Linked DNA regions of Homo sapiens. The protein of the gene in region 1 interacts with the protein of each later gene in a biochemical or structural test. Each region holds a gene or a part of one and is shown on either strand. Other genes may lie near its edges. The genes, in order: CUL2, ARID1B, KHNYN, FNIP1, UBXN7 and SAP130.

The links.
Region 2: the proteins of CUL2 (region 1) and ARID1B form a complex in vitro, tested with the Homo sapiens proteins (one study listed by BioGRID).
Region 3: the proteins of CUL2 (region 1) and KHNYN form a complex in vitro, tested with the Homo sapiens proteins (one study listed by BioGRID).
Region 4: of the proteins of CUL2 (region 1) and FNIP1, one has a biochemical effect on the other in vitro, tested with the Homo sapiens proteins (one study listed by BioGRID).
Region 5: the proteins of CUL2 (region 1) and UBXN7 form a complex in vitro, tested with the Homo sapiens proteins (one study listed by BioGRID).
Region 6: the proteins of CUL2 (region 1) and SAP130 form a complex in vitro, tested with the Homo sapiens proteins (one study listed by BioGRID).

Annotation. Positions count from the first base shown.
Region 1 is NC_000010.11:35,078,885-35,083,841, reverse strand, and holds part of CUL2 (cullin-2), read left to right. Parts: intron 1-4,161; exon of another isoform or gene 4,162-4,244; intron 4,245-4,957.
Region 2 is NC_000006.12:156,783,250-156,788,206, forward strand, and holds part of ARID1B (AT-rich interactive domain-containing protein 1B), read left to right. Parts: intron 1-4,957. UniProt on the Homo sapiens protein: Involved in transcriptional activation and repression of select genes by chromatin remodeling (alteration of DNA-nucleosome topology).
Region 3 is NC_000014.9:24,427,661-24,433,279, forward strand, and holds the start of KHNYN (protein KHNYN), read left to right. Parts: upstream 1-2,293; 5' UTR 2,294-2,459; exon of another isoform or gene 2,460-2,963; intron 2,964-3,053; coding exon of another isoform or gene 3,054-3,070; coding exon 3,071-3,271; intron 3,272-3,802; coding exon 3,803-4,950; intron 4,951-5,061; coding exon 5,062-5,192; intron 5,193-5,275; coding exon 5,276-5,372; intron 5,373-5,619. Other genes in the region: CBLN3 (cerebellin-3 precursor), read right to left, coding at 129-326, 626-745, 1,095-1,394.
Region 4 is NC_000005.10:131,702,404-131,707,360, forward strand, and holds part of FNIP1 (folliculin-interacting protein 1), read right to left. Parts: intron 4,144-4,957; coding exon 4,008-4,143; intron 1,864-4,007; coding exon 1,662-1,863; intron 1-1,661. UniProt on the Homo sapiens protein: Binding partner of the GTPase-activating protein FLCN: involved in the cellular response to amino acid availability by regulating the non-canonical mTORC1 signaling cascade controlling the MiT/TFE factors TFEB and TFE3.
Region 5 is NC_000003.12:196,365,608-196,370,564, reverse strand, and holds part of UBXN7 (UBX domain-containing protein 7), read left to right. Parts: intron 1-1,053; coding exon 1,054-1,144; intron 1,145-2,409; coding exon 2,410-2,537; intron 2,538-4,957. UniProt on the Homo sapiens protein: Ubiquitin-binding adapter that links a subset of NEDD8-associated cullin ring ligases (CRLs) to the segregase VCP/p97, to regulate turnover of their ubiquitination substrates.
Region 6 is NC_000002.12:127,943,636-127,948,592, forward strand, and holds part of SAP130 (histone deacetylase complex subunit SAP130), read right to left. Parts: intron 1,925-4,957; coding exon 1,821-1,924; intron 1-1,820. UniProt on the Homo sapiens protein: Acts as a transcriptional repressor. May function in the assembly and/or enzymatic activity of the mSin3A corepressor complex or in mediating interactions between the complex and other regulatory complexes.

The DNA.
Region 1 (4,957 bases):
TTGAAGGAGAGAAAGTACAGGCTATGCTCCAGGCTGGTTTTGAACTCCTTGGCTCAAGCAGTCCTCTTGCCTTGGTTTCCCAAAGTGTTGGGATTACAGCAGGCATGAGTCACTGTGACCCGCCTATGGTTTATAATCTAATCCTATCATTCATTATTTTGTTGCTCTGATTTGTTCCAGTTTTGACCTTTAGTTTAACTTGTGTCCTTTCGATATGCCCCCACCCTCTTTGTGGGGGGAAAGCACCTTCTATTTTCTGACATCATAGGTGTTCTAGGTTCAACTTGTATTTTTCCTGCTTCAGCCCTGGAATCAATCACTTTTCCAAGGAGGAGCTCTGGTTCCTTTTTTTGGAGAATGATATTTAGAAACCAAGATCTAAGTTCTATGTGTGCCCATTGCCACTGTGGTGTCATTCCTCCTAGGCCCTTCTCAGTGAACAGAGCTAGAAATATATGTATATTCAACCATGCATACACAAACATCTATGTTTATATCTTTTTATCTGCATGTATATGTGTGTTTGTGTATTCAAAACCATGAGTTTGTAAATGATACCTTTGATTACAACTCATTACCACAGGATTAATGCTTGCCTTTCCCCTTTATTTATAACTGCTATTTTCTGACGGTGGGAAATAGAAGATAGCTTTCTTTTTTTCTTTTTCTTTCTTTTTTTTTTTTTTTGAGATGGAGTCTTGCTCTCATGCAGGCTGGAGTGCAGTGGCTCGATCTTGGCTCACTGCAACCTTTGCCTCCTGGGTTCAAGCGATTCTCCTGCCTCAGCCTCCTGAGTAGCTGGGATTACAGGCACCTGCCACCACACCGACTAATTTTTGTATTTTTAGTAGAGATGGGGTTTCACCATGTTGGCCAGGCTGGTCTCAAACTCCTGACCTCAAGTGATCTGCCCGCCTTGGCCTCCCAAACTGCTGGGATTACAAGCATGAGCCACCATGCTCAGCCAAAGATACCTTTGTAATTATGTAAGTGTATAGTTACCAAAATAATGAATAATGTGACATCAAGAGAAAGATCCCCAAGTAGTCCTGAGCCTTCAGAAAAATTTTATCTCAAGATATTTCTCTTTTATTTGATAAAAGTCTGTCTGAACCAAAAATAGTATTTTGTCATCATAGTACCAAGTATTATTTTGATTAGAATGCATCCATTTAAAAATTTTTAGAGAGCATTTTGCAGTGAGATTCAGATACTTCTCTGACATCAGAACTTTGTACCTGTGATCTAGTTTTTAAGCACTTAAAACATACATGACATAAAATTTACCATTTTAACCGTCATTAAGGGTATAGTTTAGTGGTGTTAACTGCATTTACAGTGTCATTGTGACCCTCACCACCATTTCCAAAACCACCATTTCCAAAACTTTTTCGTTACTAGACAGAAACTGTACAACCATTAGGCAGTAGCTCCCCATTTCCCCTTCCCCCAGCATCTGATAACATCTCATCCTTCTTTCTGTCTTTATGAATTTGCCCACATACATACTTTTGTTTAAATAGGACCATAAGATATTTTTCACCTTGTGTCTAGTGTATTTGACTTAGCGTAATATCTTCAAGGTTAATCCTTGTCGTAGCATATATCGGAACTTTTTATTTTGAGAGACAAGGTCTGGCTCTGTTGCCCAGGCTGGAGTGCAGTGGTGTGATCATAACTCACTGCAGGCAAATTTTTTTTTTTTTTCAGTCAAGATGATGTCTTGCTGTGTTCCCAGGCTGGTCTTGAACTCCTGAGCTCAAGTGATCCTCCCACGTTGGCCTCCCAAAATGCTGGGATTACAAACTTGATCCAACTCACTGGCTCTCTTTGGGATTGTAAACAGGAGGTGTCAAGAAAGTTGCTAGAGGGTTAATTGATATGCATCTGCCATAACTGTATCCCCTTTTTAATTATTCTTCCATGCCTGTGTCTTCTATAGCAGTGTCAGGACATAGGCAGGATTTAATGTATTATATAGCAGTCAGCAAATACAGTAGATTGTAGTGGTGCGGTCACATCTTGGGCTCAAGTGATCCTCCCATCCCAGCCTCCCTAGTAGCTGGGACTACAGGTGCATGCCACCACACCTGGCTGATCTGTTTGTATTTTGTACAGGCGGGGTTCACCATGTTGCCCAGGTTGGCTGCGAACTCCTGGGCTCAAGCAGTCTGCCCATCTTGGCCTCGCAAAGTGCTGGGATTGTAGGTATGGGCCACTGCACACAGCCAAAAAATTTGTTCTCAATGTTTTGATAATTTGTGTAAAGGCTGGTTGGTTCTAGCTTTGTCTAGTATTCATACACGATGGGCTTGCCTAGTCATGAAGGACTCAGAAATTCAAATTCTCTAATTTACCTGAGATCGGGGATACATATATGAGAATAGTTTTTTTTAAAAATGTCAGTTTCTTAAATTCGTTGACTAGATTATTGAACAAAAAATGAGAAAGCAAGTGAAAATGGCGTTAAACTTCAAGCTGATAAGAGCGATGTGAAAACTTAAGAAACAAAGTATAGGCTGTGCAGTCTTATGGGAGTCTAAAGTTCATTGCAGAGAGGGGTCTTTTATTCTGGTGCAGTGGGTTTATTTTTGGAAGCAGGTAGCTGCTTTTTTGTGACAAGATCTTGGTCTTTTGGCCCAGGCTGGAGTGTGGTGGTGCCATTGTAGCTTAATGTAACCTTGAAGTCTCCTTTGCTCAAGCCAAGCTCCCACCTTAGCCTCCTGAGTAGCTGGGACTCCCTGCGGGCGCATGTTACCAGAGGGCCCAGCTACTATAATTTTATTTTTTTTTAAAGACCAGGTCTGTCTATGTTGCTAAGGCTGTTTTCAAACTCCCAGGCTCAAGTGATCCTCCCACCTCAGCCTCCCAAAGTACTAGGATTACAGGTGTGAGCCACCACACCTGGGTGCAAATGGCTTCTGTAACTTATTGTATTATGAATACATTCCCTACTCCCCACCGTGTCACCCTTTTTGAGACTTCAAGATGTTTTCCTGCAGTATACATTTTGGCACACACCATATGTCTGTTCACTCTTTTTTCCCCAACTCATTTGTTTTTGTAAAAAACCTACTAGAAATTCTAGGCTGGGTGCGGTGGCACACGCCTGTAATCCTAGTAATTTGGGAGGCCAAGGCTGGTGGAAGCTTGAGCTCAGGAGTTCAAGACCAGCCTGGGCAACATAGTGAAACCCCATCTCTACAAATACAAAAAAGTAGCTCAGTGCAGTGGTGTGTGCCTGTAGTCCCAGCTGCTCAGGAGGCTGAGGCGGGAGGATCACTTGAGCCCAGGAGGTCAAGGCTGCAGTGAACCAGGATCACACCACTGCACTGGGTGACAGAACAAGACCCTGTCTCAAAAATAAATAAATAAATAAATAAATAAATAAATAAATAAATAAATAAAAATAGGAATTCTAAAGCCAGAAAGTCATGATGGAAATGTTGTTTATGGAGTACTTAGAGCTCTGTGGGTCAAACCTTAGTGCAACAAAAAACATTGCACCCTTAACCTCCAAATAAGAAAGGGCATTCTTAGTTACATCCAGTGGCTTGCTCATTTGATACAGCAAGATGAAAATGTTTAGATGCATTCTTGGAGCTTATTTTAATATTAAATGATGGCAACATATTTGGTCATTGTGCACCATTGGCAGCTTTGGGCCCACCTATGGAAATGGAAAATAATGCCAAGTTAATATGGTATTCCACTTCCCTGCCTCCCTTATTCACAGTTTTGTTTTCTGCATTTTAGTTACCCACGGTCAATGGGGTCTGCAAATATTAAATGGAAAATTTCAGAAATAACTCATAATTAAATTCTGTACTGTCCTCAGTAGTGTGATGAAATCTTGCACTGTCCTGCTCAGACGTGAATCATCCCTTTGTCCAGCATCTCTACGCTGTGGATGCCTCCTGCCATTAGTCACTTAGTAGCTGTCTTGATTATCAGATAGACTGTTGCAGTTTTGCAGTATTTGTGTTCAAGTCACCCTGATTTTACTTAGTAAGGGCCCCCAAAGTACAGGAGTAGTGATCCTAGCAATATGGATACACCAGAGAGGCTTCTGCCATAGAGTGCTTCCTTTACACGAAAAGTTGAAAGTTCTCAATGAGGAAAGAAAAAAATAATAGACTGAGATTGCTAAGACCTACTGTAAGCAGGTCTAATAAGAATTTCTTTTTCTTCACAATTATGAAAGAAAAGAAATTGTGAAGAAAGAAATTCTTACTAGTTTTGCTGTCAAATCTCAATCTGTAAAAGTGATAGTTATATCGTGTAATAAGTGCTTAGTTAATTTGGAAAAGGCATTACACTGGTGGGTGGAAGACATGAGCAGAGACAAGTTCCACTTGATGGCAACATACTGTGCCAGAAAGCATTGAGCCTATTTGAAGACTCAGCAAGGGATCCCCAGAGACGAATGACACCAAACCATTTACTCTAAGTCAGGGACTGTAACACATATTCAGGAATACAGAAGGTCAGTAGTAAGTAGCCCAATGCCGACCTTCCGATGCATGTGTCACTCACCTCACTTCATCTCATTACATAGGCATTGTATTGTCTCACACCTTCACAAGAAGGGCGAGTACAGCACAGTGAGATATTCTGAGAGACCATGGTCATGTAACTTTTATTATAGCATATTGTTATAATTGTTATATCTTACTGCTAGTTTTTGTTAATCTCTTACTGTGCTTGATTTATATAATAAACTTTATCATAGGTATGTATGTATATGAAAAAACATAGTTTCGGGCATTCCTGGGGATCTTGAAACGTATCCCCTTGGATAAGGCAGGGGACTGCTGTAAGGCTCTTTATTGGGTCTTCAGTATTTTCTCATTTTATGCATTTGGAAGGAAATCTGCTCTAAGCCTATTGAGTGGCATTTAAAAAACTAATTATGGTGTCTTAACTATCTGAAGTCAACTTAGACCACTCTATTGTA
Region 2 (4,957 bases), on another chromosome or scaffold:
GACACTTTTACTAATATACTTAACCTCTGAATGTCATTTTCCTTTACTGAAATTGAAGAAAATAACGTCTTTATTCTGATATTTAAAAAAAAAAAACATTAATTCTGATTTGAGAACTGATTTTAAAAATGTAAGACAATGTAGAGGAAGACTTAATATAAGCTCATTTGATCGTTTTATTAGACACAGATACCTTTTAAAGAGAATAGGTGTAATAGAATGCGGTTGAGTTTTCAGTTCTATTTTTTATTAATAGACTTTATTTCTTTATGATTCTGGGCAGGGTGTATCTATCTAAAAAGATGACTTCTGATGTAATAGGAACACTTGCTTTCCTAGGATAAATTCCAATATCACAGGCAAACCGAAAAGATGATCATTTCATTTATTTAACCCTACCCTTTCCTAGGAGATGAGTGATTTGATGAACATTTGTTAGGGTTCCATGAAATTTTCTACTCCGTTTGGAGACTCACTGGGGATGTAAATTTTGGATGTGCTGGCCTAGGACTCTGTATTCGCTTTTTTGCCGGTGTCCTCAATCTGGAGGCTTTTCTTGCAGCTCTACACTGGACTGACACTGCTCAGCTCATGGGGTTGTGTGCTTTGATCCATGTGGGTGGAAAAGGGACTGATATTTCACTCGTGTCACTTTTGTTTTGGAGTGTATGTGTAGATTTGTAAATTTGAGATTGATATTTATGTTTGATAGAAGTGTGGTGTGTTGCATAAAATGACAGATTTATGGAGGCTGAAAATATTAATAAAACTTAATTCCATTTTTTTTTTGCAATATTTAGGTTTTCCAGTTGGATGTTATAAAATTTTTATGACATTTTACACTGCTGTTATTACTCAAGGGGCCGTATCCACCTCTTAGGCCTTTTTGGGATTGGGTGGTTTTGGTTGCATGCCTTTTCGGAGGTGCCCTTTCCTGAATGGGAGGGAGGTTTTTGCAGGTTCTCTGTGGATATGTAAAGTAGTGCCGCACGCTTGCTGTGTGTGCTTGCTTGAGGCTGAGGAATCCCAAACCCTGTTCCCTGTCGTGTCCGGGAGAGGCACCAGGCAAAACTGTTCCTCTACCAAGAATATATTTCTGTATCATAGATGTAGAACTATTATAAATATCTTTTCTCTAGCTTGGAGGCTATTTGAATGAGACTCAATGGCCCTTTTGGTTTAATTGGGTAATTGAGTGAATTAATTCTGATCTAAAAACTTGGTGTACTTTAGCAACTTTTTCTTCAGGAAATTTGGTAAAGATAAAATGACTTAGGTATCAGTCATTACCTGAGTGTCCTAAGTATTCATTTGTTTTTCCTTATACTGACATCTGAATGAATGGAATGATAGACATATACTATATAGTTTTAATTAGCAATTCACTTTGAGTGAGTGAATTTTTTCAGAGTAGAATATGTGTTTCCACTGTAAGTTTTCACTAAATATGTTCTATTTTCAAAATCTTTGACTTGGAGTAATTCTAAGAAAATTCTTTCCTTACATTTAGTTATTTGTTTTTCTTTTTGAGACAGGGTCTCACTTTGCCACCCAGGTTGGAGTGCAGTGGCGCGATCTTGGCTCACTGTGGCCTTGACCTCCCAGATTCAAGTGATTCTCCTGCCTCAGCCCCGCAAGCAGCTGGGACTACAGGTGCACGCCATCACACCTGGCTAATTTTTGTATTTTTCGTAGAGATGGGGTTTCGCCATGTTGCCCAGGCTGGTCTCGAACTCCTGACCTCAAGTGATCCACCCTCCTCGGCCTCCCAAAGTGCTGGGATTACAGATGTGAACCATCCTGCCAGGCAAGATTTACTTACTTAAATAGGATCCAGTAGGCAGTTTTCAAACCCACATCTGTATGGATCAATGCCAAGAATATTAGAAGGCTACTGAGTTTGACAGATGAACTAATGATGAAATTAACTTGTTTCTTGGATGAGATTTATTACCAGGCACCAGACTAAAGCCCTAAAATCTTAAGCCTATCTGGTTTATGAATAGCTACTCTTATTTCCATTATTAAAATCAGGTAGATGGCAGCAGAATCTGGAGGAGATTCACCCTCTGTTGACCATCTTCTGTAAGGTGCACTTCTCAGTGTCTTCCTGGGCCTTGATGAATGATGAGCTGGAGAACTAGACCAGAAGCCATTCCTTATCAGGTGACTCTGGAAGGGAAGCCATATTTGATGAAATCCAGAAGAAATCCTGGACCATAATGCTACATTTTTTCTTTTTTTGTAATGGGATGCTAAAAAATTAAATATATGGTTTTTTTTTTAAATAGAGGTAAGCTATACGTACATAACATACAACTTACCATTTGAACCATTTTTAGGCATACATTCCAGTGGCATTAAGTACATTGTCATTGTTGTGTGGCTGTCACCATCATCATCTATCCCCAGAACTTTTCCTTCTCAAACTGAAATAAAAATATTTTTCTCTTTCTTTTAAAATTGTTAGCTGCTAATGTGTATTGTAAGTAAAATAATCTTGTTTTTGTAACCATTAATCTTATCACTTCATAGTTTGTGAGTAAATTCTTCCGCAGACATTCCATCAGGATGCTAATGGTTTTTTTGTTTGTTTGTTTTTGTTTTTTATTAGTACATTACTTCCTCTCAATTCTAACTTTGGGGTAATCCTCATAGAGTTTGAGGATCTCTTTGGAGATGTGTATTACAAAGGTTAGTAGTTTCACTGCCAGTTATGTTATTAAAATTTTGAAAAGCAGCTTTTTGGAACCTTTCTAAAGTTTAAAGGTTGAGGGTATTTGTTGAGAGAAACCTGGGACTTGGTTAGATAATAGGGTGTGGAAATGAACTGTTACCATTCTCACTTTTCCCTTGCTTTTCTTCCCTCACCTTTTGCATTTGTAGTCTCTTAAAAATTATTAATTTTATTTTCCCACTATTAGTGAAAATCATTTATAGTGATATTTTTTTCTATTCTTTCTGTGTTTGAAGTTTCTGGGCATCTCACCCCTACCAACCCAGAGCAAACCCAGAGTCTAGGTGGTGCCATGTCCTTTTCCATAGTGTTCTCTGCCACCAAATTTGTGCCTCCCCCTCATGTTTTTACTTTTTAGTCCTCTGCAAAACTTCAGAAATTCTTTGTATGTGGAAAAATTACTAAATTAAGATGATTGACCTTTTAGAATTACATTTTAAAGGCAGCTGTGAAGGGAGACTTCTAGATCCTGCCTAGTCTCATGAACAGGCGTCTTTGGTTTGTGTAAGGTATTGGAATTGTACTGGAATTGCTGCTGATGCTGATAGGTAGTCACATCTTTGTAAGATCAGTTATGTACTTTAACACCAGCTTCCACAGAGAGGAAATGAACTGTTACTTAAGAGCTTGTACTGGGAAGCAATAGTTATTTCTTTAAGGTGTAAACATTTAGCATTTGTGTATGCAGTGAGGTATATGTTAGATAAATATCTACTCCAGACAGTCAATTGGCAAATATTTATTGAGCTCCCACTTTCTTAATCAGCCCTGTGCCAGAGACAGACAATAGCTGGGGTCTGGGGATTGCTGCTGTTGGTGTGCGGATCATGCAGAGATACTGCTAACGCTTGCTCCCTCCATACCTGGATCGTGGTATTGCTGACATCATTGACTTAGAACTGGCTCATTTAAACAAATTGCAGATAGCAACCATGTGGGTCAGCAGTCTATTTGGCCTGCTTTTTTTTTTTTTTTTTCCGGTGGGGCAGTATATTTTGGCAAAACAAAATCTGGTCAACAACAATTGTAGGTTGTTGTGATATAGTTGATGTGATCTAGTGACTCTTTTCCATTTCTACCAATCAGTTACTGGCTTTGTGCCAGAGCGAAATATAGATTCACTACCGAGAATAATAACTAAAAGAAGGAAAATATAATCACTTTCAAATTTATATAGAATGGTCCTTTTTCTTTTTCTCAGTTTTCTACATTACATAGATTCTTGGAAAAAAAGTTAAAACAGTCTGTTCAGATTTAGGAAGATACTTGGATTGCTGGGGTATTTTTGGTAACTGTTTAGATAATGTATGCTGGCTGAGGAGTAAATTCAGCTACTGCTTCTGGGTCCTGAAATAAACCTTTCAGAAAGCGAGGCATTGATGATTAGTGGAGGCAGTTCCAGAATTCTTAGTATCTACTGTTTCTTTTTGTGATGAGCATCTTAGAAGTTAAACCACTCACCATATTTCATAGCCTTATATTGAAATGATTGTTAATTCTAAAATTCATTTAGAAGCTGGCGTCTAATTTGTGAAATCTTGAGAACCACCTTTTAAGATTCAGTGACCATATATCAAGCTACACACCCATTTTAATGCCCTTTAAATTTTCTGTTACCACTGGTATATTTTATAATAAATTCACTCTAACTAATGAATTATAAATGACCTTGGAAATAGGAATGTGGAACATTGCTACTGCTGAGCAAGTATCTTTCTGAAGAAGCAGACATAATTCCGAGGGGACTGGCATGTTTGCTGTGTATTAGTTTATTTTGGTGATTCTGAGGATTTGTGAGCGAATAAGCTTCTATGATGAGGCATCCTGACACAATGGTAAGATCATGGGCTTGGAGCTGGTCAGACCTTAGCTCATTTGGAGGCCTCAGCACCCATTTTCTCTGCACTCCAGCAGGGGGTCAGTTTCCTTACCTGGAATGTTGGCTGCTGGGCAGGGTTGTTGAAAACCTTCACTGAGGTCATGGATGTCTATCTGTGGCATCTGTATGTGGCCCCTCTCTTCTCTGCCTACCTGCCTTCCCATGTGGGGCTTGTTTTCTCATTCTCTGCCTGGTCCTGCTGTACTTCGGGGTGTGGCTGACTCAGGACAAGCCCTTGCTGGCATCAATTAGGTGATGCTCAGCCCCTCCCAGCTCCAAAAATCTGTGCTGCTTTGAATTTTTAAACAAATAGTGCCTAATCAGCTATGCACCGCTGAACA
Region 3 (5,619 bases), on another chromosome or scaffold:
GGTCCCATGCAAAGAGGTGGGATAGGAGCCAGAGGGAGTCTCTCTCCTGCCTCTGCTGTTTCTGGGGCAAGAGAGGGCAGAAGAAAGTTGTCAGGGGCTGGATTCTTGTGCTTGAAAGACTTGGGTCCTCAGAGAGGGAAGATGAGGAAGCCAGAGAAACTTGAGTATTTCCAACCACCCAGTAGATTCCCCCGACGCAGGCGCAGAGACACTCGGTCCCCAGGGTCCAAGGGCAGTAGCACAGAGCTGGTGGCTGCCTCCCGGGTCACGTCAGGATCATTGGCAAAGGCTGAGATGACAGGCCACGTGTTCAGCATCAGGCTCACCTGGGGAGGGGAGCCCAGTTAGCCCCCATTCCCCAGCCCTTAGCTCAGGACCCCCCACTTTCCCAGGAGCTTCCTCTTGGGAAGCTGGGTTTTAATGGGCTCTCCCGGGAGGGCTGAGGGGCGGCCAGCATTGGACTCTGCACATCCTCCACACTCAATGCAAGGCAGGCCCATTCCTCCCCTGGTCCTGGCCTCCAGGACACAGGTCAATGGAGAGTCCACCCGGAGGTCAGCTGGGCTCCCCTTCTTCCCCCTCCCCACCCTCCTGAGCCGGGGATGGGGGCCAGTGCTGAGGTCACCTGGACAGTTTGGCGGTTGTACACCTTCACCACATGGAACCGGAAGCTGTAGACACCCCGGACAGGGGCTACGAAGGAGCCAGAGGCCCGGTCAAAGCCACCGCCCTCGTTCACCAGGACCTGGGGGAAGCAGAGCCTGCTGAGTGGGGCTCAGGAAATGCCCATGGCTCAGGGGTACCATGGGGACTAGGGGCAGGGGCAGTGAGTAATGAATAGAAGGAGTGGCAAGTAGGAGTGAATAGGAGTGAACAGATTCAAAAGAAATGGTGAGAAGGGGCAAGGAGAGGGCTGCGTATGGGTGGAGGGAGGGGAAACCGTCGGTGGGGTGGTGGGGCAATAGGCCAGATTAGTGAAAGATGTAGGAAGCTGTTTTCTTAAAGCCTCAGAGACAGCAAAGTGGGCTTGGACAGTTGCTTCCAGGTCCTTGCAGGGTCTTTCCAGGTCCCCTGGACAGGGGTAGGGGGATTACCTGGTCGAAGTAGATGGCCCCACTGGTGCCATTGCCGGTTTCCCCTGCTGGCTCATGGTGGTGGCTTCGGACCGCAGCAAATGCCACTCGCCCAGGGGGTGCCTCTCCCAGGGCTGCTCCCCCGGGCCCCCCTGCAGCAGCTCGGCCAGGCTCACAGACCACCAGGCACTCCCCCTCCAGCAGGACGGGCTCTGACCCCTCCTGGGCCCACCCGGCCCCCAGGGCCAGAAGCACCAGAACCAAGGGCAGCCCGGGACTGTGTAGGGGACCTGGTAGCCAGTGTGGCTTGGCTCCCAACATGGCTGAGGGGCTCTGCAACCCACAAGTGCCCCGGTCTTCTGCCCCTCTTCTGTTTCCGCTCCTCTCCCTGGATTCTCACCGCCGGCACCCTGATCGTCTGCCCTCTCTAGGCTCGCTGAACCCCCTCTCCATACCTGTGTCCCAGCTCTGTCCTGCCTCCCACTCTTACTCCTGCTGTCACTGCAGTTCCCTCCTCCTTGGCAGAGCATGCAGTGACAGCAGTTGGGCTTTGGGAGAGAAAGGAGGGATGAAGCCGCCTGCCCACTGGACGGGAGGGCTGCAGCCAGAGCTTCAGGGCAGCCCTGCTGGATGGGACAGCACTGAGGGCTGGACCTGGGGGGATGGAGAACATGGTATGTGTGTGTGACGGGTGTGACAGAATGTGTGAGTGTGTGCATATGCCAGAGGCAGCCCCTCAACCCCTTCCTCCTACTCTTCCTCTCTTCAAAATCCCCCACAAATCAACAGCCCTTCTTCGTGGCATCTTTCCGTTTGTTGGAAGAAAGGGGTACTCCACCACGGGTACCCTCCGCCTCCCGCCTCCCGCCTACCCCCTCCGCCACGATTGCTTTGGTGGAAAGTGCTTGGGCCTAGAGCACCAGTGGGCCAGTCACGCTGCCTCTTTGGTCGGCCACATCTTTATTCGCGGGAAACAACTTTCAACGCATGGTTCCCCTTTCCGAGAAGTAACTGCGCAGAATGCGCGAGGACCCTGAGGGCCGGGAGACAGACGGGAGGGCTGGTGAGAAGCGCAAGGGGCGAGCCCTGGAGCCGCCGAGGGGACTAGGCCGAGCGGGCCCGTCGGGGCCTCTGGGCGCGGCGGCGGGGTTGGGAGGAGGGCGCGCAGCCGGGAGGAGCTGGGCTGACTCCGCCCCAGGCCAGGAAGTGACTCAAGAAACAGTTTGCGTGCGATGTGGACAAGAGAGGTCCCCGCTGGGTGAGGAACCCGGGAAGGCCCGCCCAGATTCGGGCCCCCTGCCCTTGTCCCCTGGGCTGGGGGCGCGGGCAAAGCGGGGGCCTGGCGGGCGCTGAGAGGACCTGAAGCCGGCGCGGGCGGCGGAGGCGGTAGGCGCGCCCCTCCACCGCGCCCGGGAGCGGGGAGCGGGGGCCGCGGTGCGGAGTAGGCCCGGCCCGGGGTGGCTGCCCCAGTCCGCGGTGGGCGGGCCCGGCCCGGCCCGGCCCCTGGGCCCTGGGCGGTGCTCCTGGCCCGACGGAGAGGGGCAGCGGACGGCTGGGGGAGGGGTGGGAGTGGCTTGAACCTTGGAAATGGCAGACCAGGGCCCCCAGAGGACAGCCTAGTTCAATCCCCTGCTGAGGATTCGTCCTTAAGAAGCTTCAGAGTGCCCCAGGAGACTCCTTCTGGCCTCCAGGCCGAGCTGGAGCCCCCCCACCCTTCTTGCTCCGGACTGTGGTCATCCTTTTCCAAAGCCCAGACGCCCACTCTCGATAGACAGCCTTGTTTACCGGGACTTCCTCTCCGGAGAGGCCTGCGTGACATACACCCTCCCTACCTCCAGTGGACTCAGATGCTTGTCACCTCCTGGGGCTGTTTACCAGAGCCTTAACTAGGTGCGACCTGTTGATAGCTGGTGTAGTCCCAGGAACCAGGATTTGGATGGAGGGTACAATGAGGCTCTGAGCTGCCTTCTCCCCTTCCAGGGCTGGGGGCAGCAGCCATGCCTACCTGGGGGGCCCGCCCCGCGTCCCCAGATCGCTTTGCGGTGTCTGCGGAGGCTGAGAACAAGGTTCGGGAACAGCAGCCCCATGTGGAGCGCATCTTCAGCGTGGGGGTGAGCGTCCTTCCGAAGGACTGTCCGGACAACCCCCACATCTGGCTGCAGCTGGAGGGCCCCAAGGAAAACGCCAGCAGAGCCAAGGTGAACGCCTTCTCTCCCCCATCCCTCCAGGCACCAAGGACGCTTTCCCCCAGGGCGGAGGAGAGCAGGGCCGAGGAGAGCAGGGAAGAGGAGGGGCCTGGGGAGGATCTCCACTTCTTGGTTGTCTCACTGGCAACCTCAGTGCCCCTGAGTTTTGAGGGACTTTCCAACTCTATATTTGTTTTCAGTTTCAGCTTAATTTCTTCTGTGATGGCCCAGGCTGGCAAAAATCATTCTGTGCTCTTTGGGAGAATAGAGATATCTGGCTGAACAAGTTGGCCCCACCAAGGAATGCACTGTGGGGTGGGAGGCTGGGCCACATTGCTTCCTTTGGGATTAGGCTGGGGTTCCAGGATGGCTCAATCATGTACCAGCTTTGTGATGGGAGTCTCAGTTTCCTTATCTCTAAAATGGGAATAACATCATGTGGATACTCCAGACATCCTGGAGCTCAGGAGCGAGCAAGGAGCCAGGAGGGGTGATCTGGGCCAGTTAGTTTACTTTTCCTGACCTTCCCTTCCTCCCAACCAGGAGTACCTGAAGGGCCTCTGCAGCCCAGAACTGCAGGATGAAATCCACTACCCGCCCAAACTGCACTGCATCTTTCTGGGAGCCCAGGGCTTCTTCCTTGACTGCCTGGCCTGGAGCACGTCAGCCCATCTGGTGCCCAGGGCGCCAGGCTCACTGATGATCAGTGGCCTGACTGAAGCCTTTGTCATGGCTCAGAGCCGGGTAGAAGAGCTGGCAGAGCGGCTGAGCTGGGACTTCACGCCAGGACCATCTTCCGGAGCCTCTCAGTGTACTGGAGTGCTGAGAGACTTCTCTGCCCTGCTGCAGTCCCCGGGGGATGCCCATAGAGAGGCTCTGTTGCAGTTGCCCCTGGCTGTCCAGGAGGAGCTGCTGAGTCTGGTGCAGGAGGCGTCTAGTGGGCAGGGGCCAGGAGCACTGGCTTCTTGGGAGGGGCGGAGCTCAGCCTTGCTGGGTGCTCAGTGCCAAGGAGTGAGAGCTCCCCCTAGTGACGGCAGGGAGTCCCTGGACACTGGATCTATGGGACCCGGAGATTGCAGGGGAGCAAGGGGAGACACTTACGCTGTGGAGAAGGAGGGAGGGAAACAGGGTGGTCCCAGGGAGATGGATTGGGGGTGGAAGGAGTTGCCTGGGGAAGAGGCGTGGGAGAGAGAAGTGGCCCTCAGGCCACAGTCAGTGGGTGGAGGGGCAAGGGAGTCAGCACCCCTGAAAGGGAAGGCCCTGGGGAAGGAGGAGATAGCTCTGGGAGGAGGAGGGTTCTGTGTCCACCGTGAGCCTCCCGGTGCCCATGGCTCCTGTCACAGGGCAGCTCAGTCCCGAGGAGCCTCCCTCCTCCAGCGGCTCCACAATGGGAATGCCTCTCCTCCGAGGGTGCCCAGCCCTCCACCTGCACCGGAACCCCCATGGCACTGTGGAGACCGGGGTGACTGCGGAGACCGGGGAGACGTGGGGGACAGGGGAGACAAGCAGCAGGGCATGGCACGGGGTCGGGGGCCTCAATGGAAACGAGGCGCCCGAGGGGGCAACTTGGTGACTGGCACACAGCGTTTCAAGGAGGCCCTGCAGGATCCTTTCACCCTGTGCCTTGCCAATGTGCCTGGCCAGCCAGACCTCCGCCATATTGTCATTGACGGCAGCAACGTGGCCATGGTGTGAGTACCTGGTGGGGCTAAGGGCCTAGGAGAGGGAGGATATGTCCTGAGGGGCTGGCATTGTAGCCAGGGTGCCAAGCCCCTCCTCTGGCCGACCCCCTCCCACTACAGGCATGGCCTCCAGCACTACTTCTCCAGCCGGGGCATTGCCATTGCTGTGCAGTACTTCTGGGACCGTGGTCACCGTGACATAACTGTCTTTGTGCCTCAGTGGCGCTTCAGTAAGGATGCCAAAGTCAGAGGTGAGTTGGGCCTGGTCTTCAGTGTCCCAGGATAGGCTCTGTTTCCACTTTGAGGAGAACCCTATTATGTTCTTTTTCAATAGAGAGTCACTTCCTGCAAAAGCTGTATTCCCTCAGCCTGCTCTCCCTCACACCCTCACGAGTCATGGATGGCAAGAGGATCTCCTCCTATGATGACAGGTACTTGCTCCTCTCCTGGCCCCAGGCTTGATATTGAAGGAGCCCTATGGAAGACTGAGGGAGAGAGAAAAGCTCCTGGTGGTTTACGCTGTTTCTAAGCCTTGGTGGTGGGTAAGGGGCCAGTTATTCCTCTGTGTGCCTTATGATTGGGTAGGTAAACCTGCCCTGCAGGTGTGATGAGATGAACTGTAGACAACCATGTTTGTCTATTCATCATTCATCAAACAAAATGATACCTTGTATTTAT
Region 4 (4,957 bases), on another chromosome or scaffold:
AAATGGGCATATAATTTGAAAAATGTAGACACAGCACAATCCCTACCAAGTAAAAGCACAATATGCATAAAAAAGGCCTAAATAAGATTTTTCAGCAATGAGTTACTGTGTTCCCTTTGGGTGGCAAGAATGTCGATTTTCTTGCTATTCTGCTATATCCAATTTTCAGAGCTTTATGTTCCAAAACATCCCATACATCCTTCAAAATGCAGTCCAAATGAAACTTCTTCCCAATAGGAAGTCATTTCACTTTCCCCCAAATTTCTAAAAAACCTTTGTCCTTCCTTTTTAGCTTAGATTCTAATATTTCACAATTTACTATACATATTTGTATCGTATATACTATCTCAGTAGCAACTGACAAAAGTGATCACTCCTTCCTTGAAATACTTTCTGTACTTGGCTTTCCCCAAAAGAATACACTCTTGTTTTTTCTCCTAATTGAATAGCCAATCCTTTTCCTTCGCCTCTGCTGGTTCCTTCTCATCTCGTCAAACTCTTAATGTTAAAATGCACCACAACTCAGGCTTACCATTGCCTGTCCTCTCTTGCCAATCTCCATCAGTTTCATGGCTTTAAATACCATCTATACACTGATGACTTCTCTGGTAAACTCCAGACTCATAAAAACACAAGGATGTCCATATGCAAATATAAAATACCCATCTTCCTTTATCAAATCTGTTTCGCTTGCAGTCTTTCTCACTTCAATGCTGGCAACTTCATCCTTTTAACTGCTTGGCTAAAAAAATCTTAGAGTCAACCTTAATGATTAGTCTACCAGCTAATCAAACTGGCTGTTTTCAAAATATATCTAGAATCCAACTCTTTCTTACCAATTCAATCACTAAAGTGGTTTGCGTATTCATCATCTGGATTACTGTAACAGTATGCTAATTGGTCTCACAACATCTACTTTTGCTCCTAGAAATCTATTATCCACCAGCAGTAAGAGTGATCCTCATAAATAATGTCCTTCTTCCTCCACTGAAAACCCTCCAATGGTTTCCCATCTTTCATACTTTTGTAAGAATAAATGCTAATGTTCTTACAATGGTATCTTATAAGGTCCTACATGATCTAGTCTCACTTCAACCTAGGCACCTTGGCCTCGTAATGCTGCTTAAGTATCAGGCTTACTCCTGCAATAAGGCCTTTGCCCCTGCCTGGAATATCTCGTTCCAGATGGTTGTAGCTCACCTGCTCCGTATTTCTGGACCACATTCACATGTCCTTTAATAAGGGGCATTCCTGACTAGCCTATAAAAATTAGTAATCCTTCCTTGCAGGATCCCTTATATACCGTTCTCCGTTTTATTTTTCTTCACAGGACTTATTACATACATCTATATTCATATGTTTATTTGTCCCATGAGGTCAGAAGTGTTGCTTTTATCACTTCTCTTTAGTTGGTAGAACGGTGTCTACCACATTTTAGTCCCTCAAATATTTATTTACAGAACAAATGGATGAATGATCTTATATCTTTTACTAGACAGTAAGCACCTTAAAAAGGGTTCAATCTATTTGCATCCACCAGAGCACTTTATAGGACACATGCACAACGTCTGTTAATTTTTCTGCCAAATTAATAAATATAATGCTTAATTGGGAGAATAAGATTTTAAAAGGAAAATACATAAATAAATAACTATGCTTACCTGTTCTATTGCACTCTTTAATTTGTTCATGTGGCTTTCAAAGAGAGGAAAATGTGAAAAAAAGAATTCATTAAATTTGTTATTTTCATCTTCATCTTTGGACAATGAAAAGATTACCCCAATTGCAATCTTCTTTTTCCGCACAATTCCTGGGTTAGGGCCACAGCTTTCATCTGAGAGATTAAAGCTTTCTTCTATAGACCTTAAAAATAAATGATTTTTTATTAATTTACAAAAGTAAAAATAAATTCACAATTTAATCTTCTTGCTAATTAAATGTAGGTAAGCTAAGTCTTTTGCTGTTTTATCAAACAAACCTATAATTTCATACCAATTGTATATCTCTTTAAGAAATCTACTGGCTATTCTTTCAGGTTCATGTTCTTGTAAGAAATTTTACTACAGAGTCAGATTGGGAACATTTTTTTGTCCAATTAGAAGTAACTAAAGAAGTAGATAATCCCAATTCATAATCAACCAAAAAGTGGCTAAATTTTAAGATTTATAGATGAGTCTGGTACAATCTTTTCCCTGTTCTAGGCCCTTCTGGTGTCTGTTTTTGATTTCAGGAGTAAAGTCAAAGATGAAGGAATAAAGGAAATAAAAAAGAGGAGAAAACAAGAACTTTTAGTATCTACAGTTGTACTTAATGTAGATTAAAAACTAATCTTTCAAGAATGAATTACCTTGCCAAAATAAAAACATGAAAAACTGAAATATCAAAACATGTAGTATATAAATCAAAGACCTAAACATAAAACTCTTAGAAGAAAACAAAGGGTAAAGGCATCATGCATCATGACACTGATTTGGCAATGGTTTCTTGGATATAACACAAAAGGCACAGTCAACAAAGGAAAAAAAAATAAACTGGACTACATACAAATTTAACCTTTTGTGCATCAAAGGACACTATCAATGGAGTAAAAAGGCATCCCACAGAATGTAAAAAAAATTTACAAATCATATATCTGATAAGGGATCAATATCTAAAATATATACAGAATTTCCAGACATCACCAACAAAGCAAAAAAATGCAGTTATAATATGGGCAAAGGACTTAAATAGACATTTCTCCAAAAAAGATATACAAATAGCCAATAAGCACAAGAAAAGATGATCAAGTCAGATGTGGTGCCTCATGCCTGTAATCCTAGCACTTTGGGAGGCTGAGGCAAGTGGATCACTCGAGCCCAGAAGTTCTACTAACCTGGGCAACATGGCGAAACCCCATCTCTAAAAAAAAAGAAAAAAAAAAAATTAGCCAGGTGTGGTGGCAAGCCTGTAGTTCCAGTTATTTGAGAGGCTGAGGTGGAAGGATCACCTGAGCCCAGGGAGGTTGAGGCTGCAGTGAGCCGGGATTATGCCACTGCACTCCAGCCTGGGCGACTCAAAAGGGAAAGAAAAGAAAAGAATAGAAAAGATGTTCAACTTCACTAATTATTAGATAAATGCAAATAAAATCCACAATGAGGAACCACTTCAGACTCATTAAGATGGCTATTATCAAAAAAACAGAAAATAAGTGCTGGTGAAGATATGGAGAAATTGGAACCATTGTGCATTGCTGGTGGGAATGTAAAATGGTACAGTAACCATGGAAAACAGTGTGCAGCGTGACAGTTCCTCACAAATTTAAAAACAAAATTACCATATGATCCAGCAATTCCACTTCTGGATATATAACCAAAAGTATTGAAAATGGGGACTCGAACAGATACTTGCACACTCATGTTCAGAGCGGCATTATTCACAATAGTTAAGAAGTGGAAGCAACCCAAGTGTCCATCAATAGACAAATGGATAAACAAAATGTGGTATGTATATACAACGGAATGTTATTCAGTCATAAAAAGGAATGAATTTCTGACACATGCTACAACATCGATAAACCTTGAAAACATTATGCTAAATGAAATAAGGCAGACACAAAAGGACAAGCAGTGTATGATTTCATTCATACAAGGTATGAATGAAAATTCATAAAGACAGAAAATAGAATGGTGGTTACAAGAGGAAGAAAAGGGAGAAATGAGGAATTACGTTGAATGGATACAGAGTTTCAGCTGGGAAGAGGAAAAAGTTCTGGAGTTGGATGGTGATGATGGTTGCACAACAATATGAAGGTATTTAAACAAATGTCACTGAACTGTACACCTAAAAATGGTTAAAATTGTAACTTGTTATGTATAACTTACCACAATTTTAAAAATGTAGTAAATTTTAAAAGTTTTCAGTTTCAAACTTAAAATACACAGAATACAAGTCCAGGTTCTAAAAAACCCATATAAAATTGTGTTTAAGGAACTACTCAATCTTGTTCTGTGTTTAAAGTTCCAACTTACCATCTAGGAAATACCCCATTTTCCAAACTTGTTGTTTGGCTGCGTCGCCAACGTCGCTGGTAGCTGCTGGCACAACTTCGGGTAAGTGAGGAGTTTGGGGAAGGAAATGGAGTGATCAGCAAGCTGCTGAGAGATGCTGTTAAGTCAGAAGAACAACAAGTATAAGTCAATAATGACTAAGCATAATGACAAATTTCTTTTTAACAAAATTACAAATAGGTTAAGTTAAACTTTATTTTGCTTCATGAGCCTCAAAAATGTTCATTAAAAGAACACATCCTTCTTGTAGCAAGGTCTCAGAGGAGAAAAATCATATATTAACAATGTATCAGCAAAAAACTCTGAGACAATCCCCTTTTGGCATTCCCCTCTAGGGACTCCAGAAGAAAATTATACTTTGCAACAAGGCATTATCCCTTTGGCCACTGGATTGACTGTCCCCTAACTCAGTTGAATCCTTTTAGTTCTTAAATTAAAGGAAATCTGATGCTATTCAAACTTAATGCAGCAGCTGGATTTTAAGAACAAGCTATTGAAAATAAGTGTCTGAATGGCATTTAAAGAGGTCATTTACAAGTATTCATGGATCACATGTGCACATGTAGTCAAACCTACCACTTTTAATTAAGAATCATGACTATACCTACTAAGCTCCAAAAAAAGAATGCTCCCTGGAGCATCTAAGGTGACAAACACATTCCAGCAGACTCCACTCTTTCACGGCTGCAATCCCCTGATCTTGGGGATGGATTATTCCCTTCCCGAAACACTTCTGTGAAATCTGTAAGATATGTTTATTGCTTGAGGTGTTAAGAGCTACAACTGCTGATTTTTCATTAGGCTAGGAGATTTTCATCAGGCTTTTCCCCACTGGATTTAGAGAGGATAACACTTGCCATTAAGGGCTTGCTTTTGTTTGGCAATATTCCAGACTTCTATCTTTCATGATC
Region 5 (4,957 bases), on another chromosome or scaffold:
AACAAATATTGATCGAGCAGCTCTTTGCTTAGCACTGTGCTGGACTCTTGAGCTTATAATCTTTTTTTCTTTCTTTCTTTTCTTTTCTTTTTTCTTTTTTTTTTTAAATAAATGGACAGGGTCTTGCTCTGTCACCCAGGCCGGAACACAGTGGTGCAGTCATAGCTCACTGCAGGCTCTAACCCCTATAGGCTCAAGGGATCTTCCCACCTCAGTCTCCTGAGTTGCTGGGACTATAGGTGCACACCATTAAACCTGGCTAATTTAAAAACAAACAAACAAACAAAAAAAAACAAAAAAACTTCTCGTGGAGATGCCCAGGCTGGTCTCAAACTCCTGGCCTCAAGCTGTCCTCTGCCTCTGCCCTACAAAGTGCTAGGGTTATAGGTGCGAGCCACCATGTGGAGCCATAATCTTTTTTTTTTTTTTTTTTTTTTGAGACAAGTCTTGCATTGTCGCTGGGCAGGAGTGCAGTGGCACGATCTCAGCTCACTGCAGTCTCTGCCTCCCGGGTTCAAGCGATTCCCCTGCTTCAGTCTCCCGAGTAGCTGGGACTACAAGCGCCTGTCACCAGGCCCGGCTAATTTTTGTATTTTAGTAGAGACGGGGTTTCACCATGTTGGCCAGGATGGTCTCAATCTCCTGACCTTGTGATCCACTCGCCTCGGCCTCCTAAAGTGCTGGGATTACAGGCGTGAGCCACCATGCCTGGCCCATAATCTTAATATATTGTGATTTATTAAGATGTATATGGTTGAGAGTTATGAATGACATAGTTGACAGATAACTTGAGCAGGAAGAATAATACCTCATCTGAACTGGGAAAGGAGGAGGAATGGGTCAATATGTTTATGGTAAATTTCCAGAGAGTGCTGGAAGTGGGAAGTTGAAGGAGTTCAAACCAGATTTATTTTCTTTTTAGTGTAGGAGTGAGATCTTAATACATAGGCCGGAGGTATATTTGGAGAGCTAATTGATGTTGGTGTATAAGAAGGTTATAGTTGGTTCTTTTCTTAGAGGCTGACTTTTTTTTTTATATCAATGATTTAACAGGTTTATCATGACAGTGAGGAAGGTCAGAGATACATACAGTTTTATAAGTTAGGGGATTTCCCCTATGTTTCCATATTGGACCCACGGACAGGTAAGATTTATATCAGCACGCAGCTTTTAACCTATTACTTGTCTTTCAGTTACCTAAATGATTGATCTTTAATATTTGACTGGATCTGTTTTCAGAATTGCAGTAATTTAGGTGAAGGTTTCGTTTTTTTCCCTTTATAATTATTTAAACATCTATTGATGTATGTATTTAGGACATCTTTTTCTGGCAACATTGGGAGATGGTAGTATTTTATGTTTGTGCAGTTCTGTTCTTTTGAAGAATAACTGATATGTTCATCTTACCTTTTTTAAGGGATTTTTTAAAAGTTTTTTTACCAGCTGGGCGTGGTGGCTCATGCCTGTAATCCCAGCACTTTGGGAGGCCGAGGTGGGCGGATCATGAGGTCAGGCGATCCAGACCATCCTGGCTAACACGGTGAAACCCCATCTCTACTAAAAATACAAAAAAAATTAGCCGGGCATGGTGGCGGGCACCTGTAGTCCCAGCTGCTTGGGAGGCTGAGGCAGGAGAATGGCCTGAACCCGGGAGGTGGAGGTTGCAGTGAGCCGAGATCGCGCCACTGCACTCCAGCCTGGGCAACAGAGTGAGACTCCATCTCAAAAAAACAAAACAAGACAAAAGTTTTTTTTATCATTAAAATATTAAGATTGCCCAGATACTAGTTGTAATCCCACCTGAGAAGCAGAGGGTGGAGCTGGTTTTATTAATTGATGGTGTTTTATATAGATATTGCTTTGTCTGAATCTCTTCTTCCTAAATGGCAGTAAGTGATAGCAGCAGATAAGATAGTTGCCCTATCATTACGGGTGGGAATCTGTTAGGTGAGTATAATTGATGTGACTTCTAGGTTATGAAGACACTATGTAGCATAAGCTGGTGGAGAGGATATGTCTTTACAGTACACTTTATGCATGTGCTGAAAGAGATACTTAATGAGAATGTTCAGAAAGATCCTAGATATTATATTTACAGATCCTGGTTTTTAATGTATGCATATGCTGAAAGAGATAATGAGAATGTTCAGAAAGATTCTAGATATTACCTTTATAGATCCTGGTTTTTAATCTATGCATATGCTGAAAGAGATACTTAATAAGAATGTTCAGAAAGATTCTAGATATTACCTTTATAGATCCAGGTTTTTAATCTATGCATATGCTGAAAGAGATACTTAATGAGAGTGTTCAGAAGGATTCTAGGTATTATATTTATAGATCCTGGAGAATGTTCAGAAGGATTCTAGATATTATATTTATTTATAGATCTTGGTTTTTAATCCTTAGGTCAGAAGCTAGTAGAATGGCACCAGTTAGATGTATCTTCTTTCTTGGACCAAGTGACGGGATTTCTGGGTGAACATGGACAACTGGATGGACTTTCTAGCAGTCCCCCCAAAAAATGTGCCCGTTCAGTAAGTATAATTAGGAGGTGGTGATGGGAAAATAAATGTAATTGGTCATAAGCATCTTATATAAAATGTTCGATGTTAAGATGGTAAAGATAATCTAACTAGTGGACAACTATCACTGTGGCTATAGCATCTTAGATATCCTCCTTATATTTTGATAATTTCCCACATGAGAGTTCCATCTTCTTGGTGAAATCATGATACTCATACTCCTGCCAGTCTGTCTTGCAGCTAGAGTGCAGGCAGATGCCCCAGGATCTGGATTTAGAAGGAAGCAATGTGAATAGGTTGGGCAGGAGGACTGACCTGGCAAGCCTAGTGGTAAAGGTGTCTACTTCCTGAGGGGCAGCTCTGGGAGGGCTTCTGATATCCAGGTCTAAATAGCAGTGAAAGTGGTTGGTTTTTTTGTGTGTTTTGTTTTTTGTTTTGGAGTGGGATCTTGCTGTTTTGCCCAGACTGTCCTAGAACTCCTGGGCTGAAGCAGCCTTCTCACCTCAACTGCCCGAATAGCTAGGACTACAGGTACATGCCACCACAGCCGGCTGGAAGTGGTGTTTTTTGTTTTTGCTGAAACAACTGTCATGGTATAGTTGAGCATTTTTATTGGTTAATATAGCTTTAGGGCCTGGCTCTCTGGCCCTCCTAGAATTTACTTCTATACTTAATTTCTAGAATATACTATTACTAGGTAGACATGTTTGATAATTGGTATCAAGATTGGTTGCAAATAAGAGACTGAACTTGCAAAGATACAGCAATCTCACATTGGTTTTCATGGCTGTTTGGCTTTGATAGCAGTAGGGATAAAAATAGTTTTGTTTTGTTGGTTTTTTTTTTTTCCTTTTTTTGAGCCAGAGTCTTGTTCTGTTGCTAGGGCTAGAGGGCAGTGGTGTGATCTTGGCTCACTGCAACCTTCGCCTCCTGGGTTCAAGCGATTCTCCTGCCTTGGCCTCCCAAGTAGCTGGGATTACAGACGTACACCACTGCATCTGGCTAATTTTTGTAGTTTTAGTAGAGATGGGGTTTCGCCTTGTTGGGCAGGCTGGTTTCAAACTGCTGACTTCAAGTGATCCGCCCTTCTCGGCCTCCCAAAGTGCTGGGATTACAGGCGTGAGCTAACGCGCCCGTCCTGTTTTTTTCTTTGGGCAGGATCTTGTTCCATTTCTCAGGCTGCAGTGCAGTGGTGTGATCATGGCTCGCTACAGCCTCCACCTCTTGGGCTCAAGCGATCCTTCCACCTCAGCCTCCTAAGTAGCTGGGACCACAGATGTGCATCACCATGCCAGCTAAGCTGTTAAAGTTTTGTAGAGACGGAGGCCTCCGTATGTTGTCTAGGCTGGTCTCAAACTGGCCTCAAGCAATCCTCCCGCCTCAGCCTCCCAAAATGTTGGGATTCTGGGTGTGAGCACCACACCTAGCAACATTTTTATTGTATTGTATTGTATTTATTGTATTGTATTGTATTTTTTGAGATGTGGTCTCACACTGTTGCCCAGGCTGGACTGCAGTGGCATGATATTAACTCACTGTAGTCTTTGCAGCCTTGAGAGAACTTTAAAAAAAAAAAAAACTTGCTAGCCTTGAACTCCTGGGCTCAGTCAATCTTCTTGCCTCAGCCTCCTGAGTAGCTAGGACTACAGGTGTGCACCATCATGCCTGGCTAATTTTTTATTTTTTGTGGAGGCAGGGTCTCAATATGTTACTCAGCCTGATCTCAAACTCCTAAGCTCAAGCAATTCTCCTCCCTTGGCCTCCCGAAGTGCTGGGATTATAAGCATGAACCACCATACCATGCCCAGCCTAAAAATAGTTTTAGAAGATGTGAGGAACACTTCCTTCAGTTATCACCTATAATAAAGTGCCTATTTAAGGAAAAGCCCTAAGGGATAGTATAGAAATCTTGTTGGCCAGGATGGTCTCGAACTCCTGGCCTCAAGCAGTTCTCCTGCTTGATTTATAGTTTTTTTGAGAGCATTTTGTTGTTGTTGTTTCCTTTCTTCCATGTAATGCTTTATAATGTCGTTTTCTGCTTTTGGTAACATGTTAATGCTGACCTCACAATGAATTGAGAAGTATTTCTTCCTCTTCTGTTTTCTGCAGTAGTGTCTGTAGAATTGTTGTTATTTCTTCCTTAATGTTTGATGACATTTACCAGTGAAGCTACATGGGCCTAGAGTTTTTTTTTGGTGGAAAATTTTAAACTACAAATTCAATCTTATCGGTAGATACGTGACTACTTGGTATCTGTTTCTTCTTGGATAAGCTTTAGCAAGTTGTATCTTTCTAGGGATTTGTTCATTTTACTATATTGTCAGAGTTCATTATAGTCCCTCGTGATGCCATGAATGAATGTAGAGATTGTAGTTGTCCCCTCTCTTAATTCTGTTTTTGGGAATTTGTGGCTTCCCTTTTTTCCCCCGACT
Region 6 (4,957 bases), on another chromosome or scaffold:
TAGAAAAGGTACAGCAAAAATACGGCATGACAGATTAAAAATGGTAAAGAGCACTTACATGAATGCAGTCTACCAGGACTGTTAAGTTGCTCTGTGTGAGTCAGTGGGTGAGCAGGGAGTGAATGTGAAGGTCTAAGACATCACTGTACACTACTGTAGGCTTTATAAGCACTGTGCCCTTAGGCTACACTAAATCTATTAAAAATATTCTTCTTTCTTCAATAACAAATTAACCGTAGCATACTCTTTTTACTTTATAAACTTTTAAATTGTTTTAAACTTTTTGACTCCTTTGCAATAAAACTTAGCTTAAAACACATATTGTTGGACAAATGTGGATACTGTTGGGCGGTTACAAAAAATATTTTCTTTCTTTGTATCTTTATTCTATAAACTTTGTTTTCTTCCTTTTTTTTGAGAGTGTCTTACTCTGTTATCCAGGATGGAGTGCAGTGGTGCGATCATGGCTAAGGGCAGCCTTGGTCTTCCGGGCTCAAGAGTTCCTCCCACCTCAGCTTCCCAGGTAGCTGGGACTAGGGGGTGTGCACCACTACACCCGGCTAATTAAAACACTTTTTTTTGTAGAGACAGGGTCCCACTATGTTGTCCAGGTGGGCCTCAAACTCCTGGGCCCAAGCAATCCTCTTGCCCCAGCCTTCCAAAGTACTGGGATCACAGGCCTGAGCCACTGAACCTGGCCCCTTATGTTCTATTAAAAAAAAATTTTAACTTTTTATACTTGTTAAAAATTAAGACACAGTACAGCCTGGGCAACATAGTGAGACCCTGTCTCTACAATTTTTTTTTTCCCCGAGAGGGAGTTTTGCTCTTTCGCCCAGGCTTGAGTGCAGTGGCATGATCTCTGCTCACTGCAACCTCCACCTTCTGGTTTCAAGCAATTCTCCTACCTCAGCCTCCCGAGTAGCTGGCATTACAGGCGCCTGCCACCACGCCCAGCTTATTTTTGTATTTTTAGTAGAGACAGGGGTTTCACCATGTTGGCCATGGTCTCGAACTCCTGACCTCGTGATCTGTCCACCTCGGCCTCCCAAAGTGCTGGGATTACAGATGTGAGCCACCGTGCCTGGCCTCTACAAAAAATTTTAAAAAATCAGCTGTGTGCAGTGGCTCACACCTGCAGTCCCAGCTGTTTGGGGGTGCTGAGGTGAGAGGATTAACTTAAGCCCAGCAGGTTGATCATGGCTGTAGTAAGCCATGGTCGTGCCACTGCACTCCAACCTGGGTAACAGAGCAAGACCTTGTCTCAAAAAAAAAAAAAAAAAAAAAAAGAACAGGAGAGAGGGAGAGGTATGCCCCGGTCTCTGAATGATGATGTGTGTGACTGGCTTATCTGAGTAACATTGGAAATTGGAATACTGGAAGCTGGCAGGGAACTGGAGCCTACTACTCAGCAAGGAGCAGGAATTGTGTGCCTGGTCCCTGTGGTATGAAGGGTTGTTTGCCTAGGAGACTTCATCTGAGGGAGCAGAGTTGGGAGGAGGGACTCTCGGTTAGGCCGTTTGAGGCTCCCCCTATTTCAGATGTCACAATATCACATAACACTGAATCTTAAATTTAGGTCTTACACCACAGTTGTTCCATATATTTTGGATCTGGATACCAGAACTTAGATATATTTCAATTTTAATCACATGTAACTGACACAGTGTGATATTACATAGCACACATAAAAATTCTATCATAACCCATGTTAGCTGGGAATGCTTCAGAGTTACTTTTAAAAAGTTCTATGAACTCAGCTATCTGCAGTGTCTTCTCCTCTCTTCAGCATGATGAACAACTGCTAGAACTCCACCTACCAGCTGTAGTAACTGGGCAGCACAGAGGTGGACTTTCCAGCCTTGAGCACGACAGGATACTCCTTTCTGATTAGCTATTTCCTGCAGCATAGCTTTCTTCTCCTCTGGAACCATAAAAAATAAAAATACATGTATTTCAGTGTTTAAAAAGGTAAATGATTTGTGTTCGAGCAGTGTAAATGCCATTATTTTAACAAGAATTTTATTTTTTTTTTGAGACAGTGTCTGGCTCTGTCACCCAGGCTGAAGTGCAGTGGTACAATCTCAGGTCACTGCAACCCCTGCCTCCTAGGCTCAAATGATTCTCCCACTTCGGCCTCCCAAGTAGCTGGGACTACAGGTGTGCGCCATCATGCTGGGCTCACTTTTGTATTTTTTGTAGAGATGAGGTCTTGCTATGTTGCCCAGGTTGGTCTTGAACTCCTGGGCTCAAGCAATTTGCCTGCCATGGCCTCCCAAAGTGTTGGGATTATAGGCATGAGCTGCCGTACCTGGCCATAAGAACTTTTTTATTTGAGGTAATGGTTTCATCTAGGAGAGGCAAGCCAAGAGGACACCAGGCTGCTTACTCCCCTCCTTTACCTCCACTAAGTGCTACCTCCTAAAGCAGGGCTGTCACTCAGAGAGAAGCTTGCCACGTGTCAAGCCAGGGCCTCCCCCATCTCTAAGGCCCTGGTTCAAACATTTTGCCGGAAGAAGTGGGCTGTAAAACAGATACCTTCTAATTTCTTCCTGAAGGAAGTGAGTCCATTTGCAAGAGTGTGAAGAAGTTCAAACCTAAAGGTGCTCCCCATAACAGTGGAGGCTGTGGCAAAGGGAATTGGGGGAGATTTGTGAACTAATGAAGATATAGCCTAGACTATGTGCAGGCTGGTTTGAAGGAAAGAACAAAGCATAAGACAGCTGGGGGAGCCTTTCCAAGGGCAGAACAACTTTATCAAATCAAGGAAGAACCCTTCTTTTTCTGTTTTTGAACACTGTTTATCATGAAAAGGTGTTTAATTTTGTCAAATTTTCTATATTGATTGATACAATCATGTGATTTTTCTTCTTTAGCTTTTGTTGTGGGTTGAATGGTTTTCCCCCCAAAGACATGTTGAAGATCCTTGGTACCTGTGACTATAACTATATTAGAATGTAATGTAGTCTGACCGCAGTGGCTCACACCTGTAATCCCAGCACTTTGGGAGGCCGAGGCAGGTGGATCACTTGAGGTCAGGAGTTCGAGACCAGCCTGGCCAACATGGTGAAACCCTGTCTCTACTAAAAATACAAAAAATTAGCGGGGTGTGGTGGTGGGCGCCTATAATCCCAGCTACTCAGGAGGCTGAGGCAGGAGAATTGCTTGAACCCAGGAGGCGGAGGTTGCAGTGAGCTAAGATCGCACCATTGTACTGCAGCCTGGGGGACAGAGCGAGACTCCGTCACAAGAAAAAACAAACAAAAAAGGTAATTTGGTTAAGAAGTCATACTAGATTAAGGTGAGCTGTAAATCCAATGACTGGTGTCCATACAAGGAGGGAGGGAGACAGAGAAGTAGAGAGAGAGAGAGAAAAGGAAGGGGAGAGAAGGAGAGAGAGAGAGAAAGGAGGATGGGAGAGGCAGAGAGACACAGAGAAGAATGCCATTTGAAGATGGAGGCAGGGACTGGAGTGGTGCAGGTGCAAGCCAGGAACACCAAAGATCGCTGGCAATCACAAGAAACCAAAGAGACAAGGAAGGATTCTCCTCTACTGCTTTCACAGAGAACATGATCCTATCAGACCTTTATTCTGGACTTCTAGCCCCCAGAACCATGAGAATAATTTGTACTGTTTTATGCCACCCAGTTCACAGTACTTTGTTATGGCAACCCTAGGAAATTAATAAGGCCAGTTAATATGGTGGATTACTTTGGTTTTCAAATGTTGAACCAGCTTTGCACAGCAAGAAAAAATTCTACTTGGTCAAGGTATATACTGCTGGATCTGATTTGCTAATATTTTATTAATGCATTTTTACATCTATATTCATGAGGAATATTGATCTGTCATTTTCTATATTTGTACACTCTGTCTGGTGTTGATAGCATGAAAATATTGGCTTCATAAAATAAATTTGGAATGTCCTTGCCTATATTTTAAAAGACACTGCAGAGAAATGGATCATTACCTGGTCAGCCGATTATCTTATCAGTATGTAATATCCCTCTGTGTCTCTAGCAATTTTCTTTCCTCAGAATTTTACTCTATGTGACATTAATATAGCCACTCCTGCTTTTCTGTAAATTAATTTCATATTGTGTGAATTAATTTTGTATTGTGTGTGTCTGTGTGTGTGTGTGTGTGTGTGTGTGTGTGTGTGTGTTTTGAGACGGAGTCTCACTCTGTCACCTAGGCTGAAGAGCAGTAGCATGATCTCGGCTTACTGCAAACCTCCACTTCCCGGGGATTCATGCAATTCTCCTGCCTCAGCCTCCTGAATAGTTGAAATTACAGGTGTGTACCACCATGCCTGGCTAATTTTTATATTTTCAGTAGGGACGAGGTTTCACCATGTTGGCCAAGCTGGTCTTGAACTCCTGACCTCAGGTGATCCAGCCATCTTGGCCTCCCAAAGTGCTGGGATTACAGGCGTGAGTCACCACACCTGGCTTGTATGTATTTTTCCAGTCTTTTACTGTCAATCTACCTATGCCACTGCATTCAAAGTGAGTTTCTTGTACACAGCACATAGTTGGACTGTGTTTTTTCACTGATTCTGCCAATCTGTGTTTAATTGGTATGTTTAGACTATTTACATTTATGACAATAACTAGTATGTAAGGCTTAGGTCTGCCACATTACTATGTGTTTTCTGTACTTCTTTTTTGTTTCTCTTTTCTTTCCTGTGAGTTTTTTTTTTTTTTTTTTTTTTTGAGACAGAGTCTTGCTCGGTCACCCAGGATGGAGTGTGGTAGCGGTGGTGCGATCTTGGCTCACTGCAACCTTTGCCTCCCGGGTTCAAGAGATTCTCCTGCCTCAGCCTCCTGAGTAGCTGGGATTACAGGCACCCGCCATCATGCCTGGCTAATTTTTTTGTGTTTTTAGTAGAGACAGGGTTTTACCATGTTGGCCAGGCTGATTTTGAACTCCTGACCTCCAGTGATCCGCCCGCCT